Linked DNA regions of Homo sapiens. The protein of the gene in region 3 purifies or fractionates together with the protein of the main gene of each other region. This does not show direct contact. Each region holds a gene or a part of one and is shown on either strand. Other genes may lie near its edges.

The links.
Region 1: the proteins of RAB20 (region 3) and PGGT1B purify together in Homo sapiens (affinity purification with mass spectrometry; one large-scale study listed by BioGRID and IntAct). This does not show direct contact.
Region 2: the proteins of RAB20 (region 3) and MAGEB10 purify together in Homo sapiens (affinity purification with mass spectrometry; one large-scale study listed by BioGRID and IntAct). This does not show direct contact.
Region 4: the proteins of RAB20 (region 3) and RIOX2 purify together in Homo sapiens (affinity purification with mass spectrometry; one large-scale study listed by BioGRID and IntAct). This does not show direct contact.
Region 5: the proteins of RAB20 (region 3) and UBP1 purify together in Homo sapiens (affinity purification with mass spectrometry; one large-scale study listed by BioGRID and IntAct). This does not show direct contact.
Region 6: the proteins of RAB20 (region 3) and INF2 purify together in Homo sapiens (affinity purification with mass spectrometry; one large-scale study listed by BioGRID and IntAct). This does not show direct contact.
Region 7: the proteins of RAB20 (region 3) and ALKBH1 purify together in Homo sapiens (affinity purification with mass spectrometry; one large-scale study listed by BioGRID and IntAct). This does not show direct contact.

The regions. Positions count from the first base shown.
Region 1 is NC_000005.10:115,231,418-115,235,840, reverse strand, and holds part of PGGT1B (geranylgeranyl transferase type-1 subunit beta), read left to right. Parts: intron 1-4,423. UniProt on the Homo sapiens protein: Catalyzes the transfer of a geranyl-geranyl moiety from geranyl-geranyl pyrophosphate to a cysteine at the fourth position from the C-terminus of proteins having the C-terminal sequence Cys-aliphatic-aliphatic-X.
Region 2 is NC_000023.11:27,810,990-27,814,489, forward strand, and holds part of MAGEB10 (melanoma-associated antigen B10), read left to right. Parts: intron 1-3,500.
Region 3 is NC_000013.11:110,526,849-110,531,271, reverse strand, and holds part of RAB20 (ras-related protein Rab-20), read left to right. Parts: intron 1-4,423. UniProt on the Homo sapiens protein: The small GTPases Rab are key regulators of intracellular membrane trafficking, from the formation of transport vesicles to their fusion with membranes.
Region 4 is NC_000003.12:97,958,548-97,962,970, forward strand, and holds part of RIOX2 (ribosomal oxygenase 2), read right to left. Parts: intron 3,162-4,423; coding exon 3,042-3,161; intron 633-3,041; coding exon 504-632; intron 1-503. UniProt on the Homo sapiens protein: Oxygenase that can act as both a histone lysine demethylase and a ribosomal histidine hydroxylase. Is involved in the demethylation of trimethylated 'Lys-9' on histone H3 (H3K9me3), leading to an increase in ribosomal RNA expression.
Region 5 is NC_000003.12:33,437,032-33,442,087, forward strand, and holds the start of UBP1 (upstream-binding protein 1), read right to left. Parts: upstream 3,375-5,056; 5' UTR 2,818-3,374; coding exon 2,705-2,817; intron 1-2,704. UniProt on the Homo sapiens protein: Functions as a transcriptional activator in a promoter context-dependent manner. Modulates the placental expression of CYP11A1. Involved in regulation of the alpha-globin gene in erythroid cells.
Region 6 is NC_000014.9:104,706,461-104,710,780, forward strand, and holds part of INF2 (inverted formin-2), read left to right. Parts: intron 1-449; coding exon 450-591; intron 592-792; coding exon 793-1,542; intron 1,543-1,975; coding exon 1,976-2,127; intron 2,128-2,210; coding exon 2,211-2,272; intron 2,273-2,820; coding exon 2,821-2,923; intron 2,924-3,159; coding exon 3,160-3,245; intron 3,246-3,627; coding exon 3,628-3,728; intron 3,729-4,320.
Region 7 is NC_000014.9:77,694,105-77,698,527, reverse strand, and holds part of ALKBH1 (nucleic acid dioxygenase ALKBH1), read left to right. Parts: intron 1-3,627; coding exon 3,628-3,790; intron 3,791-4,423. UniProt on the Homo sapiens protein: Dioxygenase that acts on nucleic acids, such as DNA and tRNA. Requires molecular oxygen, alpha-ketoglutarate and iron.

The DNA.
Region 1 (4,423 bases), on a different chromosome or scaffold from region 3:
CTGTTAATTCAACTTTTCATAGGCAATATTTCAAAATGAAAATGCCTGTGAGTTCCTAAGAAGAATGGAGTTGCATTTAAGTGAGTGTGTAACAGTGGATCATATTTTTGTAGATTCCACAACAGCCCAAATTTTAAAAAGCCTCTGGATACAGAAAGAAGATACCATTAAAGGAGTTTTAAGAGGAAAAGAGATTTATGTTTGATAGGAGGGTGGGTGATAAGAATTTTTGGTATGAATAGTACAGAAGTAATACTGTCTTCTCAGTGCACTGTATTTGGAGGTGCAGCAAGTTGATTTGCCCTGTGTCTGCTCACTTGGTTAAGGTGGCATATGCCAGAGTTTTCTCTGTAAAGTTAGTGTTTTTCCCTTTGTAATTACCGAATATCTTGTGGTGAGATACCTGGAGACTAAATATTCAGTGAGTCCCTAATCAAATTTTTATCCAATAGTGTTGTTAGTATGCATTGATGATTTTCCAGCTCTAGCATCCTTCCTATAAATATCAGTTAAAATTCTACTGTTTGAAAAAAACTTTCTCTCTGCATTTATTTATTTACTTATACTTACTTATTTATATCTCTATGGACTTCAGTTTCTTATTTTATTCAGTGGGTTGTAATCTGTTACTGTCATTATTTTGATGCTCAGATTGTCCTAGATTAGGCCTGTGGAACCCCTTTTAGTAGGCTCTATGCCCTTTTGACATGTTACCCTCATTCTTTGAAGACCTCCTTGCTTTCTGGCACAAGATATTCCAGGTTTATCTTCTACTTTTCCATCCTCAGCTCTGGAATCAGTCATTTCTTTGAGGAGCCTTGGTTATTCTTGTTGGAGGATAGGGTTTAGAAACTAGAATCTGGGTACTAAGTATGCTCATTGGTATTGCGATGTCATTACTTCTAGGCCTTTTCTCGGGCAGAGATAGGAAATGTATGTGTACATAGGCATCCCCTTACAGACACACAGAATCTATATTTCTGTATCTATTTATATGTCTATATATTAAAATCATGAATCTATCGTGATGCCTCAAATTTCAGTCTTAACACCACAGGGCTCATTTTAACTTTCGTCCTTTCATTTATGACTCCATTTCTGATAGTGACAAGCAGTCCTGGCTCCTATTACCCAGAATACATTGGTTCTTTTTGTTTTGAGTCTGAGGGCATATAGTCAAAGTACTATATTTAAGAAGTACTCCAGTTACTTATTTTATTTCCCCCCTTTAATATGGTTATGTTATCTGTTTGAAGTACCATTAGGTTATTTGTTTCTCTTTGAATTCCATTTTAGGCTTTTCCTTCACTTAGCTCTCTCCTGCCCACAACTTCGTTGACTTTATTTATTTACTTAATATGTGAAAAACTAATTTGGTTCTTAAGGTCAGAACTATACAAAAAGATATATACAGAGAAGTGTGACTCCTTGCCCCTCACCCTCCCTGTATTCCCCCCTCTTCTTAACTCCCATACTTAACATCTTGTTCCCTGTCACCCTGTAGGTAACTATTCTCGTTAGTTTTCAGTTTATCTTTCTTACATTTCTTATTGATGAGAAGATATGGATATTTTTAATGCTTTTCCTTTCTTCATAAGGTAGCATACCATATTCTTTTTTTTTTTGCTGTTTGCTTTTTTCACTTAACAATATAGCTTGGGAGAAAAAAAAAAACACCAATACAATGTGAAAATTACTCCTTATCAGTTCAGAGAGATTTTTCTCTTTTTCTTATAGTTTCCTATTATATTACTCCACTGTGTGGATGTGCAGATGTACCATGGTTTTTTTCAGCTATTCTACATTTAGAGCATATATTTTGCAATTACAAATAATGCTGTAATTAATAACTTCCTGCATATATATTTCTATATTGTTATAGATACATCTTCAGGGTAAATTTCTGGTAGTGGAATTGCCTGATCAAAAGGTAAATGCATATGTAATTTTATTAGAGATTGCCCATTTTCTCTCCAAAAAGGATAGACCAGTTTGTTTTCCTACCAATATAAGAGAGTGCCTGTTTTCACATAGCCTCACCAATAAAAAGCGTTATACTTTTTTTGTTTTTACCTTTTTTTCTGGTAGTCGAAAAGTGATATTTCAGTATATTTTTAATTTTGCTGCCCTCCTCTCATGATTTTTCATTTTATTATTTCTTTTATTATGAGTGTAATTGACCATTTTCTTAACTCGAGGGCCATACAAATCCAGACTGCAGGCCAGAGTTAGCCTTTGGGCCATTGCTGACCCCTAGTTCTAGTCCATTATTTTGCATTTGCTTTTTTTTTTTTTCCTTCTTTTTTTTCTTTTTAGGAATTCCATTTTAGTGTCTGTTCTTATTTTTTTGCCTGACCTTCTTTTCAGCCACTTTCTCTTTGACCTTTTTGACTTATCTCATTTTTATTCTCTTGGATGTTTTCTCCTTTTTTCAGTGTCCCTTGTATTTTCATTTGAGATTATTCTTCCTTAGTCATCCTGTAATTTAAAATTTATTTCTTATTTTGTCTTTTTCTTCTATTTCTTTTCTAACACTATTTCTCTTTTTATTTCTATTGTTTGTTCATCTGTTTTTAGCTTTTAATTTCGTTTTTTATTTCCAAATGGTTGTTTGAGGGTATGTATTTGAGTGTGGAGTGCTACATTACAGTTTTCTTCTGATTCATGCCTATTTCTTGGGAGTAGAGGCAGATTTTCATATACTTAGGTGTTAGCGTTTCATTTGCTGTATTTTCATCTCAGAGTTACTTTGTATGTTAGTGATTTTTATTTTTTCTGATAAGAATTCCTAGTTTAAGATTGTTCTCTTCATTGTAATGCAGTATGCTTTCTTTACTGGGTGGCTTTTTTTGTAGCTGGGGTTGTTCTATGATTTTTCTGATAGGAAAAAGGTTCTCTTTTGTTTCTCAGGTATCTAAATTTTGCTTTTTTGAGCTTTCCTTTATCACCTGATTTTCAAAGGGCTTCTCCCTCCTTTTTTAACTTTCTTCACCAAAATTTACACTCTTTGAGCCCTGCCACTTTGACTTGCACATTCTTTTAAGTGCCTTCCATATAGCCAGTGCTGTGTTTACCAGGCCTCTTTCTGAACAGGCTATCCTCATTTTGCATGACAGTGCCATACTATAATGATAACCACACAAGCTGAAATGATACAAGGTGATTTTAATCATCAATGGGAAAAATTATGATTGTTTTATGACCTTTAAAATTTTTGCCAAAACTTTGAAAACTCTTCCTGTCAGTTATAAATGTATGATGTTTTAAATAGTAAAATCAGTATATAGTATACTATGATGTTTTAAATAGTAAAATCAGTATATGGTATACTATAATTTAAAACATTAGAAATATTGTGAATATTGCCTTCTTCTCATTATATAAATTATAAGATGGAGTATTTTTTCTGTGTCTTGGCAAATGACCACAATCTAAGTTTCTATCAGCTTCCAACGTTGTGTGTTTTGTGTTTTCAGTGTTGTGAAGTCGCTGAGAATTCCTTTTATGTGAAGTTTTTTTGCCCATAGCAGTTCCCTAGAACATCTTCCTCTTTTTTTATCACAAGCTCTTCCCTTGCTTATAGATGTTTCACCTTCACTTAGTTCTTCTGGTGGTATACCTAGAGTCTCAAACAGCAATATTATCAACATTCCCGTAATAGCTGTTTCTTCTATAACTCTAATTTTAAGTTCATACCCAGTGTTAATGCTTTTTATTTCTTTACTGCACTTTCATCTTTGTTGGCCAAGCCCCTCTTTCTGTTATGCCTTTTAATAAAACATCATGTGGGTTTATCACTGAGAGACAAAGAACACAACCACAGTCTGCTATCTGTGTGTGAACTGAATAACATGAGCAATGACCAATTCCTAACAGACTTTGAAAAAGGTGGTATGATTGATCACTGATCGCGATGCACATGTGTTATTTATGTAGTGATTTGCAGAGTGAAGAGCCAGCAACGGAGTTTTGTACTTTTTGCAATTATGGTTAATATGCTGCTGTGGTTACTGAAGTTTGTTGTGTTATTTAGCTAAACCATGGCAACTGGAATGTGTGCATAAGAGAACTGTGCAAAGTGAGAACTGCCTGTATTTCTCATATTTAGGGTGGACTTTCTCTTAGGCAGTGATTTTAGATCAATCTCAGAACTACTGTTAGCTCCCCTCCTCTCATGATTTTTCATAAATCACCCTTGCTCTCTGCAAAGGTGTGTAGAGTTGCAATAGACGGCTTGCTGGGATTTGATGTTTCTTTTTCTGTAGACAGGTAATCTGAAGCTTGAGTGTGTCTTCTTGCTTTGCTAAGATTTGAGATTTCAAAGTTTTATTGTTCTTCTTCTGTTTTGATTTTGGAGTGTATGTGGGGAGATTCAAATAATGGTACCCAATAATGGCTACCATTATTCTCAGTGACCCCAGAC
Region 2 (3,500 bases), on a different chromosome or scaffold from region 3:
CCTCCCTCCAACTGCATACTCTGGGATATCAAGTGGAAGAGGGCCTTTCTCTGATTGGTATAGGCCTCAAGTCCTCAGAGGGGAAGGTATGAGGCTGTCAAGGTGAGGAGTCATTAGGAGGAACCTGAATTTCCAGAAGTAAAAGAGGATTCATAGAGCCCTAAGAGTGCTGTCTTTCCTGATAGGGGTCCCTGGGGAAGATACATCTGAGGCCTCCCTAATATCTTTATCAGGAATGTCAGGGATGTGAAGGCCTTGCTTGGAGGGGATAGGTTTCAGGTAAGCAAAAGGAGGGCAATCAGACCCTCCAAGAAGCAAAAGTAAAGACTGAGGACTGAAAACTAATTACCTCAAGATAAAGAGGGTCTCACCGATCTCTGCATTGCTGCCATTCCACAATGTCCCCCTGCAAATGTGGTCACATGAGATTCCCCCTCAATTTCTTGTCTGGGGAGTCAAGGATATGAGCGCTTTGGAATGAGGGAGTCAGCATCAAAACAGTTCAGCAGTGAGATAACAGGTCCTGCCAGAAGTCAAGGTGATGGCCCTGAATGTGAATTGAAAGAAACATCGTCTACCCCAGAAAAAAAGGAAGCTCCATAGAGTCTGGACCTGCCAGTCACTGTATCAGTCCCAGTAAGATGCAGGTAATACTGGCAGGCTTCAGCAAAGGTACAGTCTAGTTACTTCCACTGATTCCTCAGGGGAAAGGCCCTTCAGAGAAGAGTAGCCTCATAGGATCCTTGAACAGTGTTCTCAAAGAAACCTACAGAAGCAACTTCCATAAAGTCAAGGTGATATCTTCCTGCTGGAGGATCACACCTTCTTTCCTTGAGGTCACTTCATCACCTGCCATCTGTCTCACACTACTACTTACCTCTGAGCAGAGTCATAATGCCTCGGGGTCAGAAAAGTAAGCCCCGTGCCCGTGAGAAACGCCGCCAGGCTCGAGAAGAGCCCAAGGACGTGGAAGGTGCTCAAGTCACTGTAGCAGAGGAAGGAGAGTCCCTCACTTCATCTCCTCATTTCAAAGATAGTCCTGAGAGGTCATCTGCTGTCGAAACACCCAGCAATGAGCAAGAGCCTGGGATAGCTCTAGCCATCACCACTGCTGCAGCTGTTTCATGCACAGCATCTAATGAAGGCATCGACAGCCAAGTTGAGGAAAGGTCAAATGCCTCACAGGCCCAGGCTACCACTGGGCAGTGGCCCAGAGGCCCTATAGATAAGAAGATTGCTATGTTGGTGCATTACCTGCTGTACAAATGTCAAATGCAAGAGCCCATTACAAAGGCAGATATGCTGAAAAATGTAATCCAGACGTAAAAGAGCCTCTTCCCTGAGATCCTGAGGAGAGCTTCTGATCACCTGGAGTTGGTCTTTGGCCTTGACGTGAGAGAAGTGGATCCCAACAAGAGCATCTATGTCCTTGTCAACAAACTAGAATTAGGCCATGACACAAGAGTGAATCCTAACAGAAGTTTGCCCAAGAATGGCCTGCTGATGACCATCCTGAGTGCGATCTTCAGCCAGGGGAATTGTGCCCCTGAGGAGGAAGTCTGGAAGGTGCTAAATATGATGGGGGTATACGAGGGACAGGAGCACGTCATCTATGGAGAGCCCAGGAACCTCCTCACCAAAGATTTAGTGCAAGAGCAGTACCTGGAGTATTGGGAAGTGCCCAACAGCAGTCCTCCAAGCTATGAATTCCTGTGGCGTCCACGAGCCTATGCTGAAACCAGCAAGATGAAAGTCCTAGAGTTTTTGGCCAAGATCCATGGTACAGTCCCCAGTGCCTTCCCATCCCATTATGAAGAGGCTTTGAAAGATGTGGAAGAGAGATCCCAAGCCAGAATTGCAGCCAGGGCCCGTACTGCCACCATGGCCAGTGCACGTTCCAAGGCCACGTCCAGCAGCCTTGCCTGCTCCAAGTGAAGGCTGAGGAAAATGCTTTACTGTGTTTTTGAAGAGGACAGTCAGTGTTTCACTAGTGGAGGGTTGGCTGTGTCTCGTTATAACATAGTACATAACATGTTCTGGGTAACTTGGATATTTAAACGTTGTTCCTTTTAATAGAAGGTTAAAGTAGCTTAAGAATCCAAGATTATAAGTGATAGTAAGTCATACATTTATTGATGTTTGTGAGGTTTTAGAGTAGAGTTTTACTATTTTATAGAAAAAAATGGGAAAATTTCCATCTTATTTAGTGATCTCCAATGAGATAACATAGTAGTGGATTAGCCATTTCCTTGGAAATATTTTTTTAAAAAAGCAGTAAAATAGTTGGGATGAAGAAATAGAGGTAAAATGTAAAAGATGATAAATGCTTTCATTCCGTTATGTTTAGTCTGTTCTGTAAAATTAAGAGATAGATACTTAGATATGATTAGTTTATTCAACAATGTAGGAGAAGGAACATCATAATAAAACTGACTTCTTGCACACTGGCTCACTTATTTCTCAAACATTACTTGGGCATCTGTTCTTTGGAGGGAAGGCGCCATGCTGGTACTGGGAATGTCAGGATAAACAAGACCCAAGGGCACGCACTGAATTGTAGAGTCTAAGAGCAGCTGTCATGTAAGGAAGATGGTGAGATATACCCTAAGAAGTAAAGGATGAGTAAGAGAAGGTGGGAAGATCCAGATCAGAGCAGTCAAGTGAAAATGTCCTGAGGCAAGTGGGTTTGGGGCCTTAGGAAACTGCAAACCCTTCAGTGTCAGTCAATTTTGTTAGTCTGGATAGTGGGTTGGTTGAGGCTGTGGGAGTACAGAGCAGGGGCCAGATCCTCAAAAAGACTAATGCCTAGAATGAAGAAGTGCTTTTAGCAGTTATTTTGAGGTAATAGATAAACCAGAAATAATTGTAAGATGGGAATGGAAGGTGTCTTGCATCCTTTTCCAGTGTCATTTTTCCAGTGCAGTTGGGCACAGTCCACAAACTATGTTTTATGCACATCAGCTCCAGGGACCTTCTGAGAATCAAGGGTGACCTGACATGAATGTGCTCAAAAGCCATTGTGCTGGCATTATTTGCTCTGGCCTGGGAGAAACAAGAGCCCACTAAACCCACTTAATTAAAAGGGCTTTTAAAAAAACTTGTACTTTAAGTTCCTGGATACATGTGCAGAATGTGCAGGTTTGTTATATAGGTATGCATGGGCCATGGTGGTTTGCTGCACCTATTGACCCATCATCTAGGCTCCCTCCCCCTGCCCCTCACACCCCAACAGGACCCGGTGTGTGTTGTTCCTAAAAGGGCATTTTTATTAGGTTGTCTTTAGTATCATTTGGCAAACTCAAGTGAGGGCTAGATTTTTGATGCGAGTGAAAGAAATGAAAATAGGGGTGGTTTGGATGGAAGGATAGTTGAAGGGATGGAAGGAATTAGTCTTTGACATAAATTATAGGAGTCTTGAATCCAACTGGGGAAGACTACCCCACACCCGCAATAAATAAGAAATCCTCAAATTTGCAAAGTAAATAACTGAGTTTTACTTG
Region 3 (4,423 bases):
AGGGGCCCTAGGCCCCTTCCTCTGCCTCTGGGGGTGGTTAGACCAGACTCCCTGGGGTGCCTGTTGCCAGCGTGCTTCTCAGGGCTCCACCGCTCCTGTGTCTGTTGCCCACCTCCTTCTCCATCTGTGCCTCAGTTCCTCCTCCTGTAAAACATGGGAAAGGGAAGCCTGCACGAGCATAATAAACCCTGAGGACTCACACTGTGCTGGCCATGCTTCTTCCCATAGCTAATGCAGCGCTTCCTATCCTTGATACAGGACGGGATCGTGGAAGTTAACAGCTCATTCCCTGCTATAAATTACGAAGTCCTGTTCTGGCTTCCATTTCTCTTGTTTAGACAGAACTTAAACCTCATAAAGTGAGTGGAATTAGCTCTTTAGGTGAACAGACACAATTGTGTTTTTAGATCTGTAAATTCGAGAAACAAACCTGGTGGGACCTGCCTCCTGAGGGCCCTGTGTCTGTGTAGAGGTGGGGTGGGTGGGACCTACTTCCCCAGGGTCCTGTGTCTGTGTAGAGGTGGAGCGGGTGGGACCTACTTCCCTAGGGCCCTGTGTCTGCGTAGAGGTGGGGCGGGTGGGACCTACTTCCCCAGGGTCCTGTGTCTGTGTAGAGGTGGGGCGGGTGGGACCTACTTCCCCAGGGTCCTGTGTCTGTAGAGGTGGGGCGGGTGGGACCTACTTCCCCAGGGTCCTGTGTCTGTGTAGAGGTGGGGCGGGTGGGACCTACTTCCCCAGGGTCCTGTGTCTGTGTAGAGGTGGGGCGGGTGGGACCTACTTCCCCAGGGTCCTGTGTCTGTGTAGAGGTGGGGCGGGTGGGACCTACTTCCCTAGGGCCCTGTGTCTGCGTAGAGGTGGGGCGGGTGGGACCTGCCTCCCCGGGGCCCTGTGTCTGCGTAGAGGTGGGGCGGGTGGGACCTGCCTCCCCGGGGCCCTGTGTCTGCGTAGAGGTGGGGCGGGTGGGACCTGCCTCCCCGGGGCCCTGTGTCTGCGTAGAGGTGGGGCGGGTGGGACCTGCCTCCCCGGGGCCCTGTGTCTGCGTAGAGGTGGGGCGGGTGGGACCTGCCTCCCCGGGGCCCTGTGTCTGTGTAGAGGTGGGGTGGTGGGACCTGCCTCCCCGGGGCCCTGTGTCTGTGTAGAGGTGGGGTGGTGGGACCTGCCTCCCCAGGGCCCTGTCTGCAGTGAGCAGGGCGTCTTCATTTCTGGCTGCTCTGAACTCACGGTTAAAGTCCTGGTCAGTTTTGCTGCATTTCAGTAGTTTGTCCAACAGTGTGGCTGATCAGACATTGGAGGCGTTCTTACAGATTCAGGTTTCCCTCACCACCAGGGGTAATTGACCTCTTCGTCTGTATGTGTTGGTGACATAAAGCTGAGCAGATCACTTACGGATTTGCTACATAGACGAGTAATAATTCCTGGACAAGTCGAACCTAGAGCCCCAGGCTCCGGTCACTCACCCATCCTCCCGTCTGCTTGGCCTGGAGACAGCCCAGGCAAAAAGGCGGGAGAGTCTGGCGGAAGGCTGGGCTCCTTCCTCAGGCTTGAACCCGTGCCCCCAGCCCTGATGATGTCAGGCCCGTGTTGGTAGTGGCCACACAGGCTCGGCAGCCTGGCTCCGTTCACCAGACCAGGGTTGGCAGCTCACTGACCCTTGGCTGCATTGGTTGAATTTGAACCAATTTGTGATTTTTCTCTTTTGCCCTGTTTCTGGGGCAGCCTGGGGCTCTGGCATCCCCAGAATTGGACCTGAGGCTGTTTATTTCTCCAGGAAAGTCCAGGTAAACCACCAGAACTCTCAGTGCTTTGGCTTCACGATTGGTACTGACGGACTCCGGTCTGGGGGAGAAGGCAATAGAGATAGAGATGCCTGATCCTGTTTCCAGGGAGAGGGACTTTGAAGTACTCAGTTTAAGCCCATACTTGTAGACAGGAAATCAATATTCTGAGAGATACAGGGGCTGACATGTGTATGGGGTTGGCAGCAGGGGGCTGACGGCCCGGCTCAGAGCACATTCACAAACTTCCAGAAAACGCGTGAGGGTCCTTGGATTCAAATACACTGTGAATCTGTCAAAGCCAAGTGCAAAAGGTCAAGTTGTAGTGACACCATTTTATTTTCATTGTCTTATGTTCACTCTCATGCCTTACATACCAGAGCCCCTACTCAAATTCAATTAGGATTAAATTCAGAACTTCTGTTCCCTGCGGGACTGGCCCTTCTTGGTGTGGACAATGCGCTCATTGAGAGCAGCCTGACTCTTCCATTAGCAATCCTAAAAGCTATACATTATCTCCAAAGCAGTATTTTAGAATTTCAAATATGAAAACTGCTTGCTTGTAAATTCTTTAGCTGGGGCAACTGCATTTAATTGGTTTGCATTCATTAATGGGTAGATAACAGATTATAGGGTTCAAGCAACAATTCTTACTTTTTTCTGGCTAGCATTTGTGATTCTTCAGTTCCTGTTTCCTTTCATTACTAAGATCTTTCCTTTTATATTATTATTTCCTTTTTTAGTTTTTTAAAGGCAAATCAGGCATTTTTATCTGGAATGGAAAACTATTTTAGGCATAGGCATCAACACGGTTCTCCCTTTGGCCCTAGTGAACTATGTAACAGAGACTTGAAAACCATTCTTCCAGGGTAGCTGGAGTGCCCCTGACTCCGCATTCCCATAGTCACACTCTTGTGAAATCTGGTGGGTAGAAGCTGATGACGTTTTTAGCTCATGTAAAAACCTCATGATGCCTGGACTGTTATCTATGGGATTAGTGTCCCTGAAACAAAAGTCTTAGTACTGTGGTAATGACGAAGAAGCATTTTTCTTTCTTTTCTGTTTTTTGTTTTTTTTTTTTTTGAGATGGAGTTTCACTCTTGCCCAGGCTGGAGTGCAGTGGCGCTATCTCAGCTCACCGCAACCTCCGCCTCCCAGGTTCAAGCAGTTCTCCTGCCTCAGCCTCCCAAGTAGCTGGGATTATAGGCACATGCCACCATGCCTGGCTAATTTTGTATTTTTAGTAGAGATGGGTTTTCTCTGCGTTGGTCAGGCTGGTCTCGAACTCCCGAACTCAGGTGATCCGCCCACCCCGGCGTCCCAAAGTGCTGGGATTCCAGGCATGAGTCTCCGGCCTTTTTCTTTCCTTTATTATTACCATTTTAAATTTATTTTAGATATGGGGTCTCACTGTTGCTCAGGCTGGAGTGCAGTGGCATGATCATAGCTTATTGCAGCCTCGAACTCCTTGGCTCAAGCAGTCTTCCCTCCTCAGCCTCCCGAGTAGCTGGGACTACAGGCATGCGTCACCATGCCTGGCTAATTAAAGTGTATGTGTGTGTGTGTGTGTGTGTGTGTGTGTGTGTGTGTGTGTGTATTTGTAGAGATAGGAGCCTTGCTATGCTGCCCAAGCTGGGCTCCAACTCCTGGCCTCAAGCAATCCTCCTGCCCTAGCCTGTTCTTTTTGAAGCTAATGCCTGCTGTATTGGGTTTTAAAGGCTTTTGATCATCATCTTCTGTAGTGGGAGAATGACTGTGGATTCCGGGGACACTGTCTGATTTCTGCCTGCTGGGGTCCAGTCCAGCTTGACTGGAAACGGATTGACTTCTCAGTCTGAAGCTGACCCCTGGTAGGCGTGCGGAAGGGAGGAATGTTGCCCTTCAGGTGCTGAATTCCAGAGCACAAGCTGCTTGCCAACAGGGTGGCTCTGTCGCCCAAACAACAGCATTCCCAGGCTGGCTTTTCCCAGAAGAGGGAGGTGACCCGGGTAGCTCTCGCACTTTGACCCTCAGACTGGCAGCAGGGCACATTCTTCTGACTCCTACCGGAGCTGGTCTGGGCTCAGCTCCCAGCTCGCTTTCCCTCCACATCCCCAAAGGGCACACTGTCGGCTTTGCTGAAGGGGGAGCTGGAGTCCACGCTCGGGGCCTGGGAGACCACAGTGGTCAGTAGACAGGTCTGTCTGGCTCTTCTCACAGGACATGAGTGTGTGTCTCTGTGGGCGCCTCTCTCCAGGGTTGCCCAAGGGGTGACCAGCCTGCCTCAAAATCCAGGCAGCATCGCCCAGCAAGGTTTGAGGACTTGGCGTCATCAGAATGTGTGGCCATTTCAGAAAGATTGGGGATGGGAATGGGATGAAATTTGGTTGTGCTTCTTGGCTATTTGGCTCTAAACAGTGGTTTATTGGCAAAGGACAGTCTGCCTTAGAGAGCCACATGTGTGCAGGTGTCATGCGTTCAGTCCATGCTCCAAAGCCCCACAGACCAAGGGGCCTTAACTTCATTTGTGTCAAGACCCCTCGGCCCCCGAGGGGTACAAGCCCAGGACCCCTTCTCAGAACACTATGCCCAAGTGCGTGCAGTCACATACAAAGGTAACCAGCTGTCCTTAAGTACAGTCGTCTTGAGCCTTTTTAAATTATGATTGA
Region 4 (4,423 bases), on a different chromosome or scaffold from region 3:
AACTATGCAGGGGGCACAGAGATAGCCTGACATATAACCAGGATGAAAATGAGTCACACTGGAATTTTAGCAACAACAACAAAAAAAACTAAGGGATCCCTGGCTATGTTCTGCCTAAGCAACTTCCAGCCCTGTGCTGACCATCGTCTTGGATGTGGAGAAGCTGCCCAAGGCCAGAGCTTCCATTTTTCCTCTAGAGGAGTCAGTGGTTCACTGAATTCTCTTTCTTCCTGTTGGACTTGAACTGTACATGAAAACAGGTTATTTGGGAAATGAACTTAATACTTCCTTAACCCACTTCTCCAAGTGCAAACCACCAAGACTCCTTCAGAAATTACATGTGCTGGCTGACAGCAATGAGAAGCACCCTGCCCTGAAACCCAGGGATATATTCCCACGGGGACCATCACACGAACTCTAAACCTTGAGCCTGAACTTGTCTTAGCAATAGGGGAAACCACAATGGCTCTAACAATGAGGTGCCCACAACGGTTATCACATACCTTCAGCATAAACTCATGCACCGGCCTGCCGATCCTTTCCTCGGCCTCCACGCTGTACTCTCGTGCCAGGGGCACAGTGGGGTGGTAGAGGCGCCAGTGTTTCTCTCCCTCCAGCTGCAGGATGAAAACCTAGAGACCCACAAGGCCCAGGAGCATCAGAGAGCTTCCTGACAACTCACACACAAAGTGCTTCCGGACTATTAGCCCTCTAAGGGGCTAATAGACAAATATATAGGTGAACCTTGAACAACACAGGTTTTTTTTTTTTTTTTTTTTTTTTAGTTGTTATAGACAGTCTCATTCTCCTGGCCAGGCTGGAGTGCAGTGTCACAATTACAGCTCACTGCAGCCTCTCAAACTCCTGGGCTCCAATGATCCTCTTGCCCTAGCTTCCTGTGTAGTTGGGAAGCTGGCATGCACCACAGCTCCCAGCTAATTTATCTTCTTTGTAGAGATGGGGTGTCACTTTGTTGCCCAGAATGGTCTTGAACTCCTGGCTTTAAGCACTCCTCTCACCTGGGCCTCCAAAAGTGATTACAGGCGTGAGCCACCACGCCTGGCCTAACAGCATGGGGATGAACCGTGCAGGTCCGCTTATATGCTGATTTTTTTCAATAAATTATATTGGAAAATTTGGAGGAGATTTGCAACAATTTGAAAAACATGAAAAATATCAAAAGAATTAAGAATGTCATAAATGCATCAAATATAAAAACATATGTAGATACTAGTCTATCATCTACTACCATAAAATATTCACAAATCTATTACAGAAGGTTAAAATTTATCAAAACTTACCTATACAAATACTTCTAGACCACCATTTGCAGTCAAGAAATGTAAACAAACTTAAAGATGCAATATGGAATAGCTGAATAAAATTAACTTTAGTACATATTGTACTACTGTAATAATTTTGTGCTACCTCCTGTTGCTATTGCCACGAGCTCAAGTGTGATGCTAATTATCTCCACATGAGCAGTTCCTCTCTCCAGTGAATTGTGTATCACAGTAAAAAATGATCTCTCAACAGTTCTTGTGTATTTTTCATCATGTTTAGTGCAACAACTTAAGCCGTGAATAACACCATGGGACCCATATGATGTGCCACTACTGCTACTGCAAGTACTCCCGAGAAACAGAAAAAAGTCGTAACGTTACAAGAAAAAGTTGAATTGCTTGATGTGTATTGTAGATTAAGGCCTGCAGCTGTGGCTACCCACCATTTCAGATGGACGATTCAGCTTGTAAACAAATGATGTAAACTTACGGTACTGATAAACACAATATTAAAAATACTTTTCCCTTTCTTATAATTTTAATAACTTTTCTCCAGGTTCCTTTACTGAAGAATAAAGTATATAACACATATAACATACAAAATAAGTGTTAACCAATTTATGCTATCAGTAAGATATCTAGGCAATGGAAGGCTACTAGTAGTTAAGTTTTAGGGAAGTCAAAAGTTACAAGCAGATTTTTGACTGCATGAGGTGTTGGCACCACTAACCCCCACACTGCACAAGGGTCAAGTTTCCGATAAAAAATAAAAATGAAAGATGAGAAATGCATGTCATTCCACAGTTAAACAAAAGTTGCCACTACTGGGTTTTATTTTTAAAAACGGAATCGTGAATCCTGACACTGGATATTCATTCTTTTCACTTTCTTAGAGCCTCGCTGAGTTCTTTATATCCCACTATCTCATTCCTTTAAATCTTCTATCAGACAGCTAAAAGCCCATAATCTCTGATGGAAAAGCCAAGCTTCAGATATTACTGAATGTCTAAATCCTGAATGTTGAAAGGGCCTGGGGAGATAGGAAAACTTCGAGTTTTTTATTCTTTATTCAGTCAAAGATATTCTATTAAAAATATTAAAAATAACATTTTGTGAAAATGTATTGATGTCAAATTGCTATCAAAGGAGAAAAAGGGGACTTTTTACCAATAACTCTGTGTTTACACCTTATATTAGGACAAAAATAAAACTATGGAATACATAAGCCAAAGAGTTAAATTTTTTTGGAAGCCATATCAGAGTGAAATCAACACTTGTCAAGATGCCAATGCTTAAGTGAAACCATGACCCTCATTCAAGCTGCCCCAAGATTTTCACAAATGGAAAATATATACATATTTTTGGCAGCTACTGAAAAAGAACAAAATGAAAGCACATGAAGGATTATTTGTGACCTCATCTTATTAAAGACCATACTTTGTGAAATTAAAGGAAAAGCCAAGCACACCTTTCTGTAGATAAATTCAATAAATACTTGTTTCAGACGAATGTGTGGCTCTTTAAATTAGTAAGGTTGGAAACAAGCTGTTCCTTTGAGACAGAGCAGGAAACCAGTTTAGTGGGATTTACTTTGGCCCAACATTTTGATGAAATCAATATCTCAGAAACTGCACAGAAAGAGCGAATACAGACCTAAGAGCCTTAGAGAATAATGTGAACTCACCCTGACAACTCTACTAAACCAGGCTCTCAACAACTCATTCTTCCCAACATGGGGCAATTTTCTCCATCTCTTACCTCGACATCATCATAATGGGGCGGCAGGCCCTGAGATCCTGCGGGAGTTATGTACACATTCGAGCCAACCAAGGAGCCAAAGTAACATTCCAGCTTCTCCTGGATCCTCCAAAGCTCATCCTTTACAAAAAAGGAAAAAAGAAAGGGTCGGCGTGGGGGAGTGAAAAATGTATTAGAAATAAGAATAAGAGCATGTTCTTGTTCACTTAGGAAGTCTTTACTGCACAACTATTATACACCAGATACTGGGAATTATGCAATGATACAGCCAATACCCATGGTCTCAAAAATCTTCCATTCCAGTGCAGAAACACCATGTAACAGACGTGAACAGATAAAGGGATGACTGACAAGGTGGGCAATTGGGAGTCCGGAAGGCTTTTAAGCAGGGAAGGACACAATCCAATTTACATTTTTGAAAGCTCACCCTGGTTATTGTGTGAAGAATGCACTGTAGAAAAGAGTGGAAGTCAGAGAGACTAGTGAGGAAGCTTCTCAGGCAGCAGCTCAAGCGAGAAGTGACTGGGGTGGTAAGAAAGGCAAGGAGGGAGGTAGAAGAGTGGGATGCACTCTAGAAGCAGCACAGACAGGACTTGCCGACAGACTCAATGTAAAGGAGCGGAGTTAAAAAAAATACTCTTGGGTTTTTGACTTGGGCAATCAGTTCCCCTTTCCACGTAACGAGATGGGAAAAACTTACTAAAAAACAAGTTTTCAGGACAAAAAAAAGAGTTTTATATTAGGAATGTTAAGTTTGGAATGCTAAGACCCCCCCCCCCCCCCCCACATGGAGATGTCTTTAAGTCGGTCTGAAGTTCTGGCAGAAACTAAGGACTGAAGATTTACACTTGGGAATTGCCTACACAAAATGGATATTTAAAGCAATGGGAACAGAAATGATAACACGGGAAGAAGGTACAGACAGAGAAGAAATAACAGGCTGGGTAATGTTCCTTCTCTCCACTATCAACTCTTCAGAGCAGACATCAGACTTAGGGGCCTAGCGATGGGCCATATATTCCCAGGAGAGAGAAGGAAGTCTGATTTTACCAAGGCTGGTGAGAAGAGAGGAGGGGGGCAATTAGGCCATGTAGATATTAGCACTTCCTATGTGCCAGGCACTGTCTCCAAGTGCTTTACAAATATCAATTATGCAACCCTCACAATAACCCTGCCTCATAAAGAGGGTACTAACATTATCTTCAGTTTACAGATGAGGAAACTGAGGCATGAGACCATGCAACTAGTAAATGATGGAGCCAGGATTCAAATTCAGGCAGCATGGCTCCAAAGTCCATACCTTTCAGAGAATTTAAGAAAAGACAAATCACAAAGGGCACTAAAGAGACTGAAGTTTTAAACATATGAATGTACAGTGCCTG
Region 5 (5,056 bases), on a different chromosome or scaffold from region 3:
AGTTCACATCTCACATCCAAATATAACCACCAAAAAAGACTAAACAAAAACAACAACAAAAAAGTATAATACAACAGCACACACAGAACACATGAGAACCAGAGCCAAAAGAAAAAGAGAAGCAAAGGTAATGTTAGTAATTAGCCCCAATATATTCCCAATATTACCAGCCTACATTATTTTACACAAACATATTTTTCCTACTGTTTTAAGAGAAAGGGGTGGGGGGAAACAACAAAAGAGAAGGGGGTCTCATTCTTGCCCAGGCTGGAATGCAGTGGCTATTAACAGGTGCAATCATAGCACACACTACACCCCTGAACCTCTGGGCTCAAGCAATCTCCCACGTAGCTAGGTCTACAAGCATACCAAACATCACACCTGCCTAATTTTAAGTCAGACCACTGACAGAAGCCATTTCTTCCTTTCAAACTATCCTCCCAAAAGATGAGGAAACCATTCCCTAAGAGAAGTCTTTTAAGAAATACCTCTTGTTTTAAGCCATCCAAAAAGCAAATACAGTAAGCATGTTTCATTTTGAAAGAAAAATAGAAAGCTGCCTACAAAATCAATTTGTATCAAGAAGTCATTTTTCCAGTAATTTCTTCAAGTTTACTTCTTGAACTTTGAAAGATAAGCTTTCCTTCCCACTGGATGCCAGAGGAAGTGACTGAATGCTCAAGCTGGCCATTCATAGGCACTCCAACCCTCTCAGGGCTCCAGGGCCAGGCATGGAAAGTACAACTGCAGTCCAGGGAGGCCTGCAGCAGCTAACGCCTTCTTCAGATTTTCTCCTTATCGAGTCAATTTTGGAATTTCCTTAGTTTGAGAATTTCAAACAAAGGGCCTTGAATTTGCAAGAGGCAAGCACTCTCATCTCTTAGTTTTTGAGGACTCAATTAAATACGAAAAAAAAACCTTCTTAAAAATGGTAATTACCTTCAAACTTCTTTGAAAATTTAGATTAAATGACACAACCAAAAAAGAATTCAAGGGAAAATTATCCCTGTAAAGAGTACTGTAGGTTACACAGAATTACAAAGATCTCACACATTACTTTAAAAATACATGGTCAGGGAAAGGTTTAAAATCATCAAGATTGTACTTCCTTTTCATGGAAATAAACCATACACAGAAGTTATTACATTAATAAGTTGGCTGAATCACTAAATCAAAGTACAGGTCAAATAAAACCCTAGAAAAAAGTAAAAGCTCAAAATAGCTATCAATAAGTAAACTTTTCAGCAGCAAACTTTCATTTTACCATAAAAGAGAAGCAACTGAGGAGAGACACATATTGAACTTGCTTCACGTGCCTCCTTTGCCTTGACTATAAGCCTCGTGTTTCCAGTAGAGAGCTAAGGAGCAGAATGGCACTAGAGGAGTGCGTTTTCACTAGAGAAGCACTGCCTCTAATACTCCCCTCTGGGGTGACTCCATGACTTTCAGTAGCTCAATTTCCTCAACAACTGAAACAGCTGTTTTAGAAAATAAGCCAACTCATCTACAGGCCTTAAGTTATACAACTGCAGAGAGAAGAGGTGCCAAGTTCAGGAAGCCCAACAGAGACCAAATCAGAGCCAGACGCTGGGGAACTCCAGGTTTAATATGCCTTCCACTACTCACTTCCACACTCCAAGAAATGTCTCCAACCTTTCTGAGAGTTCTTTATGGCTCAGAATTTCTCCTTAAGATTTAAAGACCCAATTACTTCAAGGAGCAGCCACCAAGATTCCAGGCCAGCTTTAACCCAGAAGTCCTCCTCTAGAGCTGCAGTAAGATGTATGAATGCTACTGGGAAACTGTAGAGCACTTCCAAAACATCAGACATTTTCTAAAGAACAGAAAGCTACACTTAATTCACATTATTGAAAAGCTGCCAAACCACTGATTTTTAGACTTTATTAGTCAAGTCAACGCTATGGTAAACTATATTTCAATAAAGCCACTAAAAAAATACAGAGTTTCCAAATTCCTAACAGTTAAAAAGGATAAAGGGCGGAGACTAAGCTCAGATCTGTTTCAATCTCTCCATATTAAAATGAATGACTGCTGGTACAGACAGCAGAGACTAAACAATTATTTGTGGTGCAATCACTGCATCTTAAAACCCTCAAGAGGAAACAGCCTGAGAGGGTAGTCTCCAAAATGAGAAACTTCACTTTGAGACAATCAAAAGAACAAAACGAAGTCACAGTGCTACTCCCACCGCTGCTCTTTCAATTATAATTTACTAACATCAAGTGATTAAAATCTGCAGCCAGAAAAGATCATAATGTAGGACAACAAAGTAGGAACTGATCCCAAAACGCTAGACAGTATTCTCCCAATATAAGTGCTGCCTTTTCGTACAGTGTATTCTAGCTCCAATGGGACTTGTAAATCACTTATAAGGAAAAGAAGCCCCTTCCCCCACCAACCCAAGCCATCCTAATAGCTGGGCGTGTTTTACAGCAAATATGAAGCACTCAGGAGCGGTCCGAGGCCGACGCTTGCGGGGCCATCCTCCCCCACCCGCCCGTCACCAGGGCGAGCAGAGGCCTTTGGGGTTCCATGGCCCCCGACCGCCACGCGGCAGGACTCCGACCCCGCAGCCCAGGAGGCCCGCGCACCTCTGGGAGCAGCCGCATCTGGCAGAGACTCAGGGCTGCGCAGGCCTTCCCCAAGGAGACAGAGGCTTCTCCCCGCCCAGGGAGCCCAGTACCTCATGCTGTAAGCGCCGGCGCCCAGTTCCTGCCCGATGCCCGAGAGGCTGGCGTCGAAGTCGTGCACCAGCCCGGACTCGATCACCTCGTCCATCTTGAGCACCCAGGCCATCTTCCGGCCTCGCCGTCGCCCCGCACACCGCGGCCTCCGCGTCCAGGGCGAAGGAGCCGGAGCTCCGCTGGCGCGTCCTGGGGGAGGGCGCGGGTGAAGCCTCCGGAGGGGCGGCGAGTGGTCACCAGCGGCGGCCGGGACGAGAGCTGCGGGGGCCCCACTGGCAGGGCACGACGAGCCCAGCGAGCAATTGCAGCGGGAGCGGCCGGGCCGCCGGCAGCGCCACCCTCCCGCGGACACCGGCCCTGCGCCTCATGCCGGCGCCGCCGCCCAGCCCCCGCGCCGCTAGCGCTGCAGCCGCCGCCGACCGCCCCGCCCGGGGCCCCCCGGTCGCATCCTCCTCCGGGACCGCTGGGAGGCTGGACCTCGGGCCGCTCCGAGGACCACACGGGGGCAAGCCCTCCGCCCGCCCGTCACCCGCCCCCAAGCCTTGACTCCTTGCCCCCGGCCCGCCCAGGCTCTAGCGCCACACCGCCCCGGCCAACCCCGCCGACGCCGCTCTGCCGGCCGGACGCTGGCTTCAACGCGACTCCGACTTAGGTTCACGCGCCGCTTCCGCCTCCCCCGGCCCCGCCCCGACCCCGCCCCGGCGTTCGCCCCACGCCTCGGCCCTCCCCGTACAGCCCCGCGCTTAGGGCCACTCCCCGCGCCTCGCGGCCCAGGAACTGTCCAGAGAGTGCAATGCGGCCCCGCCCACGCGGCTGTTCCCAGCCGGGGTGGCCTCGCTGCGTCCCCGCACAGCAGCCCAGGAAGAGGCGGTGCCAAAAGGGCTGCCAGTTTCCGCCCCTTCTAGCGAGCGAGATGATTGACAGGCCAACTGAGCAATACCTGCAAGGGCTTGGACGAAGCTCCCGTGAGTCTCTGTGTCCCCCGACTAAACAACCAATCAAAATGTTCTTCACCTTGGGCGGGCTCGAAGACGGAATTTGTTGCCAAAAGAAAGAGTTCATTGGACTGCATGGTAGAAAGCGACCCAAAACGCCACTTCCGGAGGTGATTTGCTCCTCTGTGGTATTTCCCGGTCGTCTCTGCTTTATGCCCTCTCTACCGAGGGAGTGAGCGGTTTGCACCCCATCTGGTGACAGAAAAGCCAGTTGTGCAGAAAACCTTGATTGGCGTGAGAATAAGCCAATCAACGCTCCTGAGAAAGAGCTCTGGAAAGACTTCCCCTATTGGTTGCATTGCCGAGAGCAGCTTGGCTATCCTGAGTTGAACTAGCTGTTGGTCATCCTAAGGGCAGGCGGTCTCCTGAAGTTGGACCGAACCATTAGGACGTGCCACAGTAACAGCTACGCTGCTCAGAAGGCCCGAAGGGTCTTCCTCAGCGACCTAGCGTGGGCACGCGCCACTGCGGCCAAAAGACAGAAATCTTTTTACCGGAAGAGATGAAATAGAAAGCAGGAGCCAGAGGCTGACTTACAGAGCCAGTGTGCGGATCAGAGTTCCTTAGGAGCGGCTGCTGGCGCTTGACGGGCGGAATCCTTGCTGAAGAGAACGTCAAGGCCCGGGCTTCGCCCTGCATCGAACTTACTGCCTAAGAATAAGACCCAAATGCTGAGCGCCCCGCCCCAACTTGCCAGTTTAAGTGCAAAAATACATAGATTAAAATGTCAGCCTAATAAAGCAGTGGCACTGAGCCAGAAAAAAATAGTCTCAACGCCTGTGTGATTTAGATACTAACTTACAGGCTCACGCCTGTAATCCCAGCACTTCGGGAGGCCGAGGCGGGTGAATTAGTTGAGGTCAGGAGACCATCCCGGCCAACATGGTGAAACCCCGTCTCTACCAAAAATAACAAAAATTAGCTGGATGTGGTGGCGCGCCCATGTAATCCCAGCTACTCAGGAGGCTGAGGCGGGAGTAAGGCTTGAACCCGGGAGAAGACAGAGCAACACTCGGTCTCCAAAAAAAAAAACCACAAATTAACTTGGAGAATGTTTTTCTCTTTACACAACATTTTTGCAAACATTTCATTTGATAAAGCCATACTTTAGAGATGAGGTAATTCAGGTGAAAATGTGTAAAGATTACACAGTGCAAGGTCACACAGTAAGCAGGTAAACCGGGGCTATTTGACTAATCCAGATTTCTCTGATTCCAGGCGAAAACATTAGATTGGCCATCAGTTCAGGAAGCTCCATTCCACTATTACAAATAAATCTGCACAAACAATTGGATAGTCAAGGGAAACATTGGTCTCATTGGGGGTCTCAGATATGTCTTCATTCCATGATCTCAC
Region 6 (4,320 bases), on a different chromosome or scaffold from region 3:
ACAGCCGGCCTTACTGTCCTGGGCCCCAGCTGCCCAGTCCCCATCAGGTGGGCTTCAGAGGCCTCAGGGCTTGGTGAGGGGCTAAGAGGCTGAATTCTCGTCAAGCTCAGGCCTTCCCCTCATTCCCTGAACCTTGCAGCTCTCATCTGGGGGCAGTTGTGTCCCCAGGTGGCATCTGGCAACATCTGAAGACATTTTTGGCTGCCACGGCTGGGCAGGGGGTGCTGTTGGCATTGAGTAGGTAGAGACCAGTGGTTCTGTTTAACATCCCATAATGCACAGGACAGTCCCACATGTCACCAGTACCACAGTCGCTGAAACTCTCATCTCTAGGGATCCGTGGGAATAGAGGGGGTGATGGGGCTGGACACCCTGGCAGACAGGCCACAGTCCTTAGTCCACCAGGGAGGGGCCGGCTGCTGACCTGCACCCCACACTCGCCCGTCCAGGTGAGCTGCTCCCCGGTGTCTGCCCAGCTCCTGTCGGTGCTGCAGGGCCTCCTGCACCTGGAGCCCACCCTCCGCTCCAGCCAGCTGCTCTGGGAGGCCCTGGAGAGCCTCGTGAACCGGGCCGTGCTCCTGGCCAGCGATGGTGAGGGGGCGGGGCAGGGGCGTAGGCACAGCCTGGTGGGCAGACACTGAGGTCTTAGACCATGGGGGGGGGAGCCTGCCCTTGGCCCCAACCCATCCTCTGCCCAGGGGAGGTGGCCGCTTTTTCCTGCCTCTTCCTCAAGCCCCCATCCCTCCCTCTCCGGCTCCCTTCTCCCTTGACCCTGGACATCCCCTACTGCAGCCCAGGAATGCACCCTGGAGGAAGTGGTTGAGCGGCTCCTGTCTGTCAAGGGGCGACCCAGACCGAGCCCCCTGGTCAAGGCCCATAAAAGCGTCCAGGCCAACCTAGACCAGAGCCAGAGGGGCAGCTCCCCGCAAAACACTACAACCCCCAAGCCCAGCGTGGAGGGCCAGCAGCCAGCAGCAGCTGCTGCCTGCGAGCCCGTGGACCACGCCCAGAGTGAGAGCATCCTGAAAGTTTCGCAGCCCAGAGCCCTGGAGCAGCAGGCGTCCACCCCACCCCCACCCCCACCCCCACCCCTGCTCCCTGGTTCCAGTGCCGAGCCCCCTCCCCCTCCCCCACCACCCCCCCTGCCCAGTGTGGGGGCTAAGGCCCTCCCAACAGCACCCCCGCCCCCACCCCTGCCAGGCCTGGGGGCCATGGCCCCCCCAGCACCTCCTCTACCACCACCCCTGCCAGGCTCCTGTGAGTTCCTGCCCCCACCACCTCCACCACTCCCGGGCTTGGGATGCCCGCCCCCACCCCCACCCCTGCTGCCTGGTATGGGCTGGGGCCCTCCTCCACCCCCACCTCCACTACTGCCCTGCACCTGCAGCCCCCCCGTGGCGGGAGGCATGGAGGAGGTCATCGTGGCCCAGGTGGACCATGGCTTGGGCTCAGCATGGGTCCCCAGCCATCGGCGGGTGAACCCACCCACACTGCGCATGAAGAAGCTGAACTGGCAGAAGCTGCCATCCAACGTGGCACGTGGTGAGGGTCCCCAGACCCCCAAGGGAAGCTTCCCCTAGGACGGGGGCTGGTCTCTGCTGGGGAGAGGGGCAGGTGGCACATGGAACTTGTGTGCGCGTCCTGCCCGTGCGTGGCCAGGGCAGCCTGGCCCTTGCTCTGGGCTCGGCGCCTGTGGTTGAGGTGGGGACGGGGGAGGAGCAGGGCAGGGGCTACCTCTGAGGACCCCCCTCCACATGCTCCCGTGAGCCAGTGCATCTGGGGTGCCATGGTGCCCTGGGGCCCTGCTACAGGTGCTCAGGTAGGGAGGTAGGGTGCCTGCTGTACGCTGGACCTGGACCTACTGGGCCCCAGGCAGGACATCCTTTAGACCCTCTGGGAGGCTCCAGCCCCTGCCTGCTGGATCGCCAGGCCCCGGGGCTGCGAGAGCCTCACTGGCCGTGTCCCCACCCGACAGAGCACAACTCTATGTGGGCGTCCCTGAGCAGCCCCGACGCCGAGGCTGTGGAGCCCGACTTCTCCAGCATCGAGCGACTATTCTCCTTCCCTGCAGCCAAGCCCAAGGAGCCCACCATGGTGGCCCCCCGGGCCAGGAAGGAGCCCAAGGAGGTGGGGACGGGGAGGGGACTCAGACCGGGGCCGCCTGCCTGGCCACCCTCCGGTACCAGCCTGTTGGGTGGGGGGTTTTCTAGATCACTTTCCTCGATGCCAAGAAGAGCCTGAACCTCAACATCTTCCTGAAGCAATTTAAGTGGTGAGTGAGGGAGGTAGCCCCCATCCCAGGCCACGGAGCCTCGCCTCCACCTGAGCCTTCTGACTTGGGCCCAGCAGTGCCCTCTGCAGGCCGCCATGGGAAGTGCACACTGCATCCCCTAGGCAGGATTGTAGGCGGGTAATAGCCCCATGCTGCCCCAGCTAGGGGCTGTCCAGGCTCCCAGGGACAGAGCGCTGGGACCTCCCCCCACAAGGCCACAGACAAGTAGTGGCTAAACCAGTGGGCCCTGACTCTCAGCCCCCGAGTCCTTTCCTGCTGCGGGTGTCCAGCACTGGCCCGAGGGAGCTGGCTGGACCCGACCCATCCTGCATCTCCTGAGCAGGGCCCATGGAGGGTAGCGAGGGTGGGAGTCAGCCTGGGTCCCCTTCACCGCGTGACCGTGGGCAACAACTCGACTGTTCTGTGTCCCCCCTGCCCTGGCCACCCCATGACTACGTGGGGAAACCCTGCCAGGTGGGGTCCCAAAGAGGCTGGGTGGGGGTGACTCATGATTCACTCACCCCTGCCCGGTCCTCTCCCTGCTCCAGCTCCAACGAGGAGGTCGCTGCTATGATCCGGGCTGGAGATACCACCAAGTTTGATGTGGAGGTTCTCAAACAACTCCTTAAGCTCCTTCCCGAGAAGCACGAGGTAAGAGGACCACCCCCACACCCCACCCCCAGTTAGTGCCACCAACCAAGGGAGAGGCTGTCCCGGGGGCTCCCAGCAGGGAGACAGAGAAGGGAGGCATCCCAGCCCTACCTCTGCCCTGAACCGTGAGCCACAGGGAGCCATGATGGGCACTGGAGGGGCTGAGCCCGGCGGGCAGTCCGGGAGGGCGGGAAGCTGGCATGGGGGGATCCCACATGCCGTTCTCCTCCTGGCAGATTGAAAACCTGCGGGCATTCACAGAGGAGCGAGCCAAGCTGGCCAGCGCCGACCACTTCTACCTCCTCCTGCTGGCCATTCCCTGGTGAGCATGGCCGCCCTCAGACCCCAGGGCCTGGGCCCCAGGTGGGAGGAGAGCAGGAATAGGGAGCAGGGCCCAGCCAGGGAGGAGAAGAGGCTGTGCCAATGGCTGCCCCGGGCTCCAGGAGCAGCATTGCAGCGGTTGGGCTTCTAAACATCACTCGAGCCCCACCCCCAGTCCTTCCCCTCAAAGTGTGGGGCTGGAGGCCTCTGGAGGAATTGGATCCTGCTCTGCGCAGGCCCGGGAGGGTGCCTGTTGGATGGGGCAGGCGGTGGAAACCCCCTCCCTTTGCCCACCACCCAAGCCAGAGCCCTGTGCTGAGTGCCCCTCTGGCAGGGACAGGTGGGGGGTGCAGGCCACTGATCCCTGTCTGTGCCATCCCCAGCTACCAGCTGCGAATCGAGTGCATGCTGCTGTGTGAGGGCGCGGCCGCCGTGCTGGACATGGTGCGGCCCAAGGCCCAGCTGGTGCTGGCTGCCTGCGAAAGTGAGTGGGGCCAAGCGGGGCACGTGTGCAGGAGGGACAGGCCTCCGAACCGGGGCGGGAGGGCTGCTCGGGGCCCCTGCTACTGCCAGTATCATAATGGCTGCTAAGAGCACCTAAGGGTGCCAGCCTTCACCACCACTCCGGAAACCACCCTGCTGCCACCACCTCGGTGCACACACCTACTGGACGCACAGACACACGCATGCCCACCGCCACTCGGGCACGTGCACACACACAAGCACACTGCCACTCTCCGGCACGCGCACACACAAGCACACCGCCACTCAGGCACGTGCACACACGCATGCACACCGCCACTCGGGCACGTGCACACACACAAGCCCACAAGCACAGTCACACACATGCACACAGGACACACAGACACACGTACACACCCCCCCAACACACACACCCTCACATACATGTACAGACATAAGTGCACACACACGGGCACCATCTCTGAAAGGGGAATCCATGGGGACCTGCCACAGCCACTGGGCAGGGAGAGGGACAGGTACGGACCAGTGAGGCACAGCTCACGTCTGTCAGGCACACTGTAGGTGTCCACTCCCGTCGGTGGAGGGTTTGCAGC
Region 7 (4,423 bases), on a different chromosome or scaffold from region 3:
TTGGATTCCTTCTTGTTCCTCAGGACCTGTCCAACCATGCTCACTTTTGTTGAGATGACCTTGCTATTTATCTTATTGGGAAAACTGAGTCCCTCAGGCACAAACCCTTTGAGCCTTCAATGCCCCCAACACTTATAAGCAAATGTTCTCATTTCCACCATCCAGTCGTAGAGGAGGAGTTCCTTTAGTTCAAAGCCAGTCTCTCTACCCTCTTGATCCATCTCACCTTCTTAAACCTCTTCCAGCTTTCAAGACCTTGCTCTATTTCTTTCCTCTCTTCTGTTTCCAAGTGGCTCTTCCCTGTTGGCTCTTTCTTCACAATCTGTAAGCATACTTAGGTCTTGCCAGTCCTTAAAAACCAAAAACTACCCTCTTAACTCTATTTTTCTGTGACTATGCCTAAGCTTTTATTTTCTTTCATAGCTGGTCTTACAAAAAGGAGTTTAACTTGTCTTTATTGCCCCCTCTCCAGACAAGGTTTTTTATCACTTTATCTCTAATTCTTTTTTTTTCTTTTGAGGCAGTCTGTTTTTGTCACCCAGGCTGGAGTACAGTGGTGCAGTCTTGGCTCACTGCAACCTGTGCCTCCTGGGTTCAAGCGATCCTCCCACCTTAGCCTCCCAAATAGCTGGGACTACCTGCGTATGCCACCACGCCTGGCTAATTTTTGTATTTTTTGTAGAGACAGGGTTTCACCATGCTGCCCAGGCTGGTCTCGAATTCCTGAGCTCAAGTGATCTGCCTGCCTTGGCCTTTCAAGTGCTAGGATTACAGGCATCGGCCAGGCCACCATGCCCGGCTTCTAATTCTTTTTTTTTTTTTTTTTTTTTATTACAGCAAATGATTTTATTTGTAATTTCTACCCCACTCAGTGCCTCCTCCCAAAAAACCTGCACATGAATTTACAAACCTATTAACGTATAAATAATGAGAAACATCCTGGCCAGAGTCTCCCGGTTGTCTTTGCTGGAGATTAAGACTGGAGGGGACGCTATCTTCATACACACTTCCAGTGACATCGAGAGTCACTTGGTGGCTGTTCTGGGCCCACAGCTGGCTTTTTCAACACCTCCAAGTTCAACCACCAGTCTGTCTGCTGTGTCCAAGGTAGAGCCCAGGGACTGCGAGCATGTGCAGCTCCATTGCCCGTCATTGCTCCAGCTGAGGTCATGCTGGAAGGGGTGCTTCCTCTCCTGACAGTGCTTCATGGTGGCCAGCCCGCTCCTGCTGGCACTCAGAGCCTCAGTACTGGGCCACCTGGCAGCACCCACAGATTTTGAACTCCTGGAGCTACTTCTCAATCACTGTGCAGGAAGGGTAATGCTGCTATAGTAGGTGTAAGAATTCAACTCTTCCACCACGTCTCCATTGGTGTTACAGTACCAGGTCACAGTTAGGACAGGTCACTGCTCTTCTTTGGGGTCCATGGGAAGCTGCTGAATTGCAAACCAGTACAAGCTTTGCTACCTCTTCTGGAGGTCTCTTTGGCTTTGGGCCACCAGCCCCACAGCACCAGCTACAGGTTGTCCAGGCAATTGTCTCAGTCAGGGCATTGAGACGTACCGCCTGGAACCCAGGGGTCATGCCTCTTCTGTGCTCCCACAGCAACTCATGAAGGAGTCTTCCCAATCCTCTTCCTCAGTGCTTGTCAAAAGCATACCTGAATATCTTAGTACCATTTCTATCTGCATCTACTTCCATTTGGACCTCAGAGGAGTATCCCTCCACCAGCAGGATATCTTTGCTCATCTGTCAGCGTATTTGGTCTTTATCTGACTGCATACTGCCTATACTACTCTCTCCTACCAGAAGCTACAGCCACTGGTGACAGGAACAGAGCTCTCATGAGGGTAAAGTCCCTGGCTAGTACAGCTACACAGGTAGCTCCCTCGCAGCCAATGAGCTGAGCCATGTGATGTCCAATTTGAAGTCAGTCACAGCCAGGCCTATGCTCTCAGCCAGCAGTGCCACTCCCATGGGAGACAGGGGTGCTGGGGCAAGGCCAGGGCTAGGGTCAGGCCAGGCAGGCCCCAGGTAGGACAAGACCAGGCCCGGCTCACCTTGTTCATGCCAGACCTCCCAGGCACTGACCTCTAATTCTTAAGAAAGTGCCTAGTACAGACCAGCCTGGCCAATATGGTGAAACCCCGTCTCTACTGAAAATAAAAAAAATTAGCTGGGTACAGTGGCAGGCACCTGTAATCACAGCTACTTGGGAGACTGAGGCAGGAGAATCACTTGAACCCGGGAGGCAGAGGTTGCAGAGAAGCAGGATCACACCACTGTTCTCCAGCCTGGGCAACAGGATGAGAGAGACCCCCATCTCAAAAAAAGAAAGAAAGAAAGTGCCTGGCACATATTGTGTGTTTGATGAATGAATGAATCTTTACCATGCGTAGGATTCCAGTTAAATATTATTATTTATCTTTTGTTTTTGAGACAGAGTCTGGCTCTGTCGCCCAGGCTGGAGTGCAGTGACGTGATCTTGGCTCACTACAACCTCCACCTCCTGGGTTCAAGTGATTCTCCTGCCTCAGCCTCCTGAGTAGCTGGGATTACAGGTGCGTGCCACCACGCCCAACTAATTTTTGTATTTTAGTACAGACGGTTTCACCATGTTGGCGAGGCTGGTCTCAAACTCCTGACCTCATGTGATCCGCCCACCTCAGCCTCCCAAAGTGCTGGGATTACAGGCGAGAGCCACCACGCCCGGCCTATTATTAATCTTTTACAGAGAAAAATGAGGTTAGGTTGCTGTCAAGGTCACAAAGATCTTTAACACACATGCTGTAATTGTTTACAAACACTGAGATAATACAGAGACACTAACTGCAGGAATTTGCAAACACTGAGATATTACAGAGACAGTAACTGCAGGAAGCAACTGTCACCCCTGCAGCTGAGAAGAACAACAAAAGAGCTTGGGATTACTACATTGAGAAGCTTGGAAAAGGGACTACATGGAACTGGGGCTTAGACTTCTGAGGAGAGGACATAATGAGGCTGATTCTAGTGATGTGGAAAAGCTACATTAGAACCAACTTCCGCCCTCCAGTCTTCCATTAGTGACCCTTATAGGCACAGGTTAGCAGACAGCCAGCTGGCAAATAAGAAATGTAGCTGGCAGGGTCTCAGCCCCATATTATGAAGCTAAGTATAGAAGAGTGGATTTGAAACTGAGAGAAAATAGACCAATAATGAGCACGCCATTCATTAGACGATGACTTTCAAATCTATGTTTTAGCTAAAATTCATTATAAGATTTCGTGTAATCATGCCTGTAATAAATGAAATAGGGAGGTAAAGAAGTCTCGGATGACTCTAAGTGTCAAGACCTGATAAAAATTAGAGGTGTACTTTTACCACTTCCAATTCTAAAGTTTGCTTTGGGATAACAGTTGTTGTGGAATATTTATTTCTCTTGAGAATACCCAGAAAGCCAGACACATTTGCATAGGGGTAGATGTCTAATGTTCATCAAAACCTACCTGTTCATTAACTTGAAGCATGACCAAAAAAATATGGGGAGTAAATAACAAAATAGTGAGTATAAAGATGTCAAAATTATTTGAATAACTGATGGAGAATTTCCCCCTCTTCTTTTTTTCCCACCCATCTTTTGTATAGGGTTTATTTTTATCCCAAACCCCTTCCTCCCAGGTTACCAGTGGCACTGGGTGAAACAGTGCCTTAAGTTATATTCCCAGAAACCTAATGTATGTAACCTGGACAAACACATGTCTAAAGAAGAGACCCAAGATCTGTGGGAACAGAGCAAAGAGTTCCTGAGGTAAGTCTTGTCAATCAGAATGAAGTGTTAATACTCAGCTCAGATCATCACAGGTCTTTGAAGGAACTGTTCTATAACAATGCAGTAAAAGTGACTGGCTGGGTTTTTTTTTCCCTTCATTGTTTCCAAGCAAAAACAGCACAATTGTATTCTTTCCCCAGGAACATTTGGACAGATGCTTTGACAGTTATAGTAAATTGAGATCCATTTTAAAGACTTGCTTATCATAGCTTAGATAATTGAGTTCATCCTCATTAATCATCACATGATCCATTTCCATTAGCTTCAGCCATTTTTTTCTACTTAAAGTGAGTTCCTTTGAAGGCTTTTGGTATCCTAGGAAAGGTAACATCGAAAGCTCTTTGCTTCTACCCTCCTAGATGGATTCAGTGGTACTAGCCGTTTTATGATAGGTCAGTTGTTCCTGATGAGAATAACTAATATTTTCACCTTCATGCTTCAACATTCATTCATTCATTCCACAAATACTTAATGAGGGTCAGTAGTGTGTCAGGCATGATGCTAGGCGTTGGACACAGAAAGATAAAGGCACCCTCCCTGCACTCAGTAGTGCATAGTCTCTGGCAAGAATGCATTACCTATGAGAATAATTACTGTAGAGCTCAGAAAGTG